2 separate regions of the Homo sapiens genome follow, and region 2 is linked to region 1. A link means that fine-mapping ties the variant in region 1 to the plasma level of a protein whose gene starts in the linked region. Region 1 holds a variant in brackets. A gene starts in the other region. All regions are shown on their forward strands.

Region 1 (2,911 bases):
TTTAATATTGAAATAAGTATCTTTCATGATTATCCTAATATAACCATTTTAGTTCTAACCCTGACAAGCAGCAAACTTTGTCCCCTGGCCCAACTTTATCAAGACGGTTGAAGTGTTTTTTTAAGTTATTCCCATTTTGCTTCTGGAAAAACTGGGCACAGGATGTTTCATGACCTTCCTCTTATGCACCCTGGGACTGAATTTGATCACAGTGACAAGCCAAACTGAGAATTTCTAAGGCCAGGAATACGGGCTGCCCTTTCTTTTAATGGACACATGGATGAAATGGTAATGTTTCCTTAGCACATTAAAAATAGTGACTAAAAAGTCGAAGTTTTTTTTTTTTCCGAATCTAATAGCTGTCTTAAATCGGGTAGAAAAGAAAGACGCAATCATTCCTTAAATGCATATTTAAAATTCACCAAGCCAAAGCCAGTCTTGCCAGATTTTGTAATCCTTTCCATAGTCTTTGTAAAGTACCTAGCTTGCCAATTAAAAAAAAAGGGGGAGGAGGAGGGAAACCTCAAGTGGTTTTTAACCACCAATAACAAAAACGACAAAGGTATTTTGAAACATCAGTTGCTGCTAGTTAGGAGCTAGCATGGATGTCTCTGGCTCAAAGATAATTCTTGCTCATGTTGGGTTTTTTTTTATTGCAACAGTATAAAATCAGATAAAGATAAATAAAATGAAATGGAAGCACAGAGATATTTGCTCTAAATATGGCTAAAGTGAATTTGTGGCTTGATGCCACTTTTCGCAGCTTTGTTCTCCCTAATCTAATTATGCCTTGAAGTTGTCTGCATTTGAGAAATTAATACTTTGATGAAATATCTAGCCAGTTCCATAAGCAGCAGAGGGAGAGGAAAGGGAAACATATATATAGTATTAACTCTGCCAGCCTTCAACCACCACAAGACCTCCTGGGCACAACAGTGGCCCACTAATAAAATGAAATGATAGCATATGTGCTTTGTTTAATTTTGATGTCTTCATAATGTATTACACAATTAGATTGATTTGACAATTTCCATTATGCTTGATAAAATATTTATTGAGCCCTGAAGATGATAACTCTTATCTAACCACCATTTGTTCTACAGATGTGACATATTTAATATATAAGTAACATCACTCAGATCTATGTTCCAGTTAGCCCATTACATTTTATTTGCAGAGTACAGTGTAAAGTCATCAATAACGCTTTG[A/T]TAGATCCCTGTCTGCCCGGTGCTTGACAGGTGCGGAGAGAGCTTGCTCACATTCAGCGGCAGGGGCACATCAATCATGGCCAAGAAATTTACTGTGTGAAATTGGCCTCATCTGTCTCAATGCTTGATGCAGATCGAGTTTGTTCTTCTGATAGAGGTGTCGTTAGTCACCTAAGCATGCCTCCCTTGGTACTCATGCTCTCTGCAAGTAATCTTTTTTTTCTCCCCCTTCTCCCCCTTCCCTTTACATATTTTTGTGAAATTAAAATCTCGCCCTCCTGTGACCCTAATCCACATATTCTTGGCCAAAACAGGAGCCAGGTGACCTTTGAGATTACCCTTGTGAAGCCTTGCAGGTTGAGTGGAAGAAGATGCTATTTTTTGTTGATGCTGTTCTTTTTTTTTTTCTTTTTCTCCCCTAACCTCACAGGCAACATGTTCCACTGATGAGAAAACCGGCAAAGACAGGTTAGGCAGAAGAAAAGAGAGATGAGACAACGGACTGTGCCAACAAACTAAAATTTTACCTGCTGCTATGGATAAAATAGCTTTCTTTTTAGAAATACTCATGTTAATAAACTCCTACATGCGACATAATATGTGCCTAGAGGTCTGGATAAGTAAGATGTGTGTGTGTGTGTGTGTGTGTGTATATATATATATATATATATATATATATATATATATATATATACACACACACACAATTTCATTTGCAATAGGAAGTCTTCACACTGCAAAGGTCTAGGTAGATTCCTAGTTAAATGGCATTTCAAATTAAGGCATCTACCCCTGTCAAAGGAGAACTCCAAATGGTAACTGGCTCCCACAACTTCGAAGTGCTGCTGAGACCCTCATCAGCTTTTATCTTTGCGCCCCGTCATTCTCCCATGGGCAAAGAATTGCACAAAAATCTTGGAGTAAACACAAACAAGTGCCAAAATGAAGACCATCAATGATCCAAATCCTTGCAAGGTATAAAAGAGAATTTTTTTCTGAGTCCCGAAGTCAAGATTGTTATAGGCTGCAGGATTTTTATGTGAGAATGGAATTGTAAGATTAATCTTTGGCCAAGAGCACTTCTCTGTTTCTTGCAAAGGATTAGCTGACTTAAACTAGAGGCTCTGCGTCCTGCTCCTGGAGCTGCAGTCAGCTGTTTTTCCTTTGTGGAGCTTCCTGATATGCCCAAACACCTTTCTTCTTAACCTTTGTAGTTATTTCAGTATTTACTTCATTCTAAATCCTTATGCAGACTTTTTTTTTGCTTTCCAAGGCAAACCTTGTAGATAGCCAATCTGTACTGTTTCCACCAAATTAATGTGAGAGCTTGTTTTAGCAACTGCAAAACAAAAGTGATACACGGCTTCAATAAGACATATTATCTTCAGAACCTGTAAAAGTTGAGACTATCTCTAGACAAAGCGCAAGCACAGGATAGTCCTACCACTGCAGTCAAAATACCACAGAAGCTACATGCCACAGCAGGATGCCTGTCGGATAGACAATTAAAGTGGCCCAGGAATGACATATCCCCTCTTGCCAACATAATTAAGGTGTATTATTTGTCAGGGAGGTCAACGGTGAACAAATGTCCTAGCAAACTGAGAATGAAAGACAGGGAAGGAGCAGATAATGAAATTCAGGGATGACAAATGGCTCGGAGCCTGACACCGTGGCATCTGACAAAGAGAGACATCCAATGG
Region 2 (2,911 bases), not on the chromosome of region 1:
CCAAGCCCTGATTCAGTCCCACCACCCCCATTTCAGCTCCAGGGAGCTGGACAGACAGGGCAGGGAGTCAAACTCACCTGGGGACAGCAGCATGCGGGGACCCCCACTCCGAGAAGGCCAGCGTGTCCTCTTTGTGTCTTTTCCCATACCTGGGAGGGAAGAGGCAGCAGGGGCAAGCACTGTGCCCAGGTGCCAGCCCACCTGTTTCATATCTGCCTGTAGGCACCATCTTGCCCAGGGCACATTGGTCTAGGCCTGTTGAGCACAGATGCCCTGTTTTCCCAAGAGCAGGCCTGGAAGGGGCTGGGGCTGGGGCTGGGGATAGGGTGTGGCCAGGAATGTGGAGTGGGCCCAGGGTCCCAGGGGCTGGGATCTCTCTCCCCAACTGTGGCACACACCTAGGCCTGGTCAGCATGTTGATGTATCTACGGAGATCAGCTGCATACTGGGCCATCTGCTCTGGTGTGGCATTGTCCCCTGGGTACACTGGCTCCAGTGGGGCTCCCTGGGCACCCAGCAGTGGCTGTAGTAACAGAGCCACGCAGGTGGACAGGAGCAGCAGGGAGAGGCAGAGGCGTGCGGCAGCCATCTGAGGAGCAAGCAGAGGGGAGGTGGAGAGCCCGGGCTGCAGATTTTCCCGTGCCCAGGAAGCAGGGCCCAACTATCCAGCCCCTTAGCCCATCATCCATTTCTCCAAGCCTGGGGACAAGGGGGCAGAGCAAAGGGCCACTCCAAGCTGGCCACTCCACCTCCTAGACACTGCTCTGAAGGCACGGACAGCCTGTCCTGTGAGCAGCCCAGCAAGCCAGGGCCTCGCAAGTTAGAAAAGTATAGCAGAGAAAATGGGGATGTGAGTCCTGGAGACACGGGACTCATGACATCCAGGGCCTCATGGCTCCCAGGAGGCAGCAGCTAGTGGGAATAAGGGCATGCCAGGTCACCCACAGGGTGGGGGACACAGAATGAACTCGGGAAGCCAAGGACAGAAATCCATGGCCTTGTGGGTCTGGCCCTCCACCCTGCGATAGAGACACAGATATCGGTCCTGGAGAAGACGCTACTGTCCATGTCGTCCTGCACAGACCAGCAAAGGCACTCACACAGGGACCCCAGTCACTCACAAGGTCACAGTCACACATTCCAGTTCACAGCCATGCACACGAGTGTGCACACACACGTGCAGTCAGCAGACGGCTCTTCTAGCGTGACAGGTCTGTCCAGATGCAGAAAGCAAGACCCAAGCAGGACCTTAGGCCTCCCAAGGCCCCTGGCCCTGCAAAGCACCACCTCCTCTCCATCCCAGGCCCCAGCCTGGGGGAGGCCCCCAGAGCCCCAGGCAGGCTGAGCCCACTTACCCGGAGTCCAGAGTAAATGGGCACTAGACCAAGCGAGCACCTGCCTCAGGCCGGATGGGCCCCTGCCCTCGGCTGGGCCGCTTTATAGTCCTCAGCCCCCCAGAGTCCCCGCCTCCTGTCAGCCTCTCTCACTCCGAAGCCCTCACCCCTCCTCTCACTGTCTCCTCATACTGGCAACGCCAGTACTGAGGCCAGAGACGGGAGGGGGACAGGGCAGTTCTGTGGGTGCCAGACCAGCAGCATAACAGATAAAACTGGACCACAGTAAAAGTCTCCTGTGGGCCCCCATCACTGACACCCCTTCCCTTTGGGCACCAGAGCAGGCTTGGTTCAAGAAAGATGGGGTTCTGGGACTCGAGAGTGACTGAAAGGTTTTGGTCACAGGCCTTGGAACTAGCTCTCCTGCCTCCCAAAGATCAACCCAAATCATCCAACGGATTCTCTTGGGGCAGAAGATTGAGGCTGCAGCTGGAAGACTGAGGCTACAGCCAGAGCCTCCAGGCTGAAGAATGGAAACTCAGGCCATCCTCTGCAGCTTGCAACTAGAACAAGGTGGGAAGAGGGAAGGGGCCTCAGGTCCTCAGGCAAGGTGGAAAGGAGTGGGGTGCCAGGCTTGGAGAAACCCATTTGGTGGGTGCATAGGATGCAGAATGAGAACTCATGTGCCTGGGTTCAGGGGAAATGTTGAGGGGGGTGCCGGTTTCCAGTATCCATTTCCCTCCCCATCTCAGAGCCCCCATTCCAGGGAAGTGCTAAAAACCAGCTTCATTTGTAAAGCCTCACATTTTCCAAAGTGCTGCCAGCTCAGTCACCTCACTAAATCCCCACAACAACCCATTTTACAGATTCAGGATCTGAAATCTGCTCAGAGATGTCAAATCACTGGCCCCAAACCCCACAGCCAGTCAGACCCCAAAATTTAACTCCAAACCTGGACTGTTTTTTTTCCTAAGTGGGGCCGTCAAAGTATTGTTATAATTTCCCACTTTTTGGCTGAGAAACCTGAGGCTCACAGAGGTAAAGACGCTTGCTCAAGATCTCATAGCTACCGAGGTTCCGAATTCTGGCTTAGATTCTCAACCCCACTAATCCATCCCCACCAGAAGCCCCTGAGTCTCCCCTGCCCAGCGTCTCTTCCCAACCCCCAGTCTCCCTCCCCTGCTTAGGCCAAGGAGTGGTAACTGGCTGTGTCTGAATGACACGGTGACACCAAGTACGGAGCTAAGGACTTATGACTGCTGACGTTCTGCTGTCCCAGATCAGTATACCAAGAAGTTGGGAGATGGGGGGGACTGTTGGGGAAGAGGGGACTGGAGGTGAAACTCCAGGGATCTGGCAGGGTGGGCTTAGAGTCAGACAGACCTGGGTCCAAATCCTGGCTCTGCATTGGCTGGCTCTGTGAGCCTGGGAAAGTAATTTCTTTAGCCTCTCTGAGCTTCACTTTTCCTCTCAGTAAAATAGGCTCATCACACCCATCTGAAGATAGGGAGAATAAAGGAAGGCTCAGCAAACATCAGTGTTCTGCCTTGACCCTCTCAATTTTGATTTTGGTTAAC

Alleles and levels. Alleles are on the strand shown, and positions count from the first base shown. The strength of an association depends on the size of the effect and on how common the allele is.
For the plasma level of the protein whose gene starts at base 1,411 in region 2, T is the high allele of the variant in region 1 and A is the other (moderate association).

Evidence for each region. PIP is the chance, under the fine-mapping model, that this variant and not a neighbour inherited with it causes the effect. Protein levels are from antibody-based Olink assays in UK Biobank. Linkage for the fine-mapping came from a reference panel and not from the study's own genotypes, which makes the PIPs less certain.
Region 2: PPY starts here. The variant in region 1 is fine-mapped to the plasma level of the PPY protein (UK Biobank, PIP above 0.99).

What each region holds. Positions count from the first base shown.
Region 1 is chr3:169,475,248-169,478,158 of GRCh38, forward strand. All of the region lies in intron 1 of MECOM (MDS1 and EVI1 complex locus), which reads right to left. It overlaps MECOM-AS1 (MECOM antisense RNA 1), which reads left to right. Exons shown (of 5, transcript NR_134932.1): 5 at 1,639-1,805. Among named protein-coding and RNA genes, the nearest start is that of MECOM-AS1, 29 kb to the left of the region's middle. The variant A/T (reference allele first, on the strand shown) is at 1,209.
Region 2 is chr17:43,941,066-43,943,976 of GRCh38, forward strand. It overlaps PPY (pancreatic polypeptide), which reads right to left and starts at 1,411. Exons shown (of 4, transcript NM_002722.5): 1 at 1,356-1,411; 2 at 399-589; 3 at 78-149. The coding sequence starts at 589.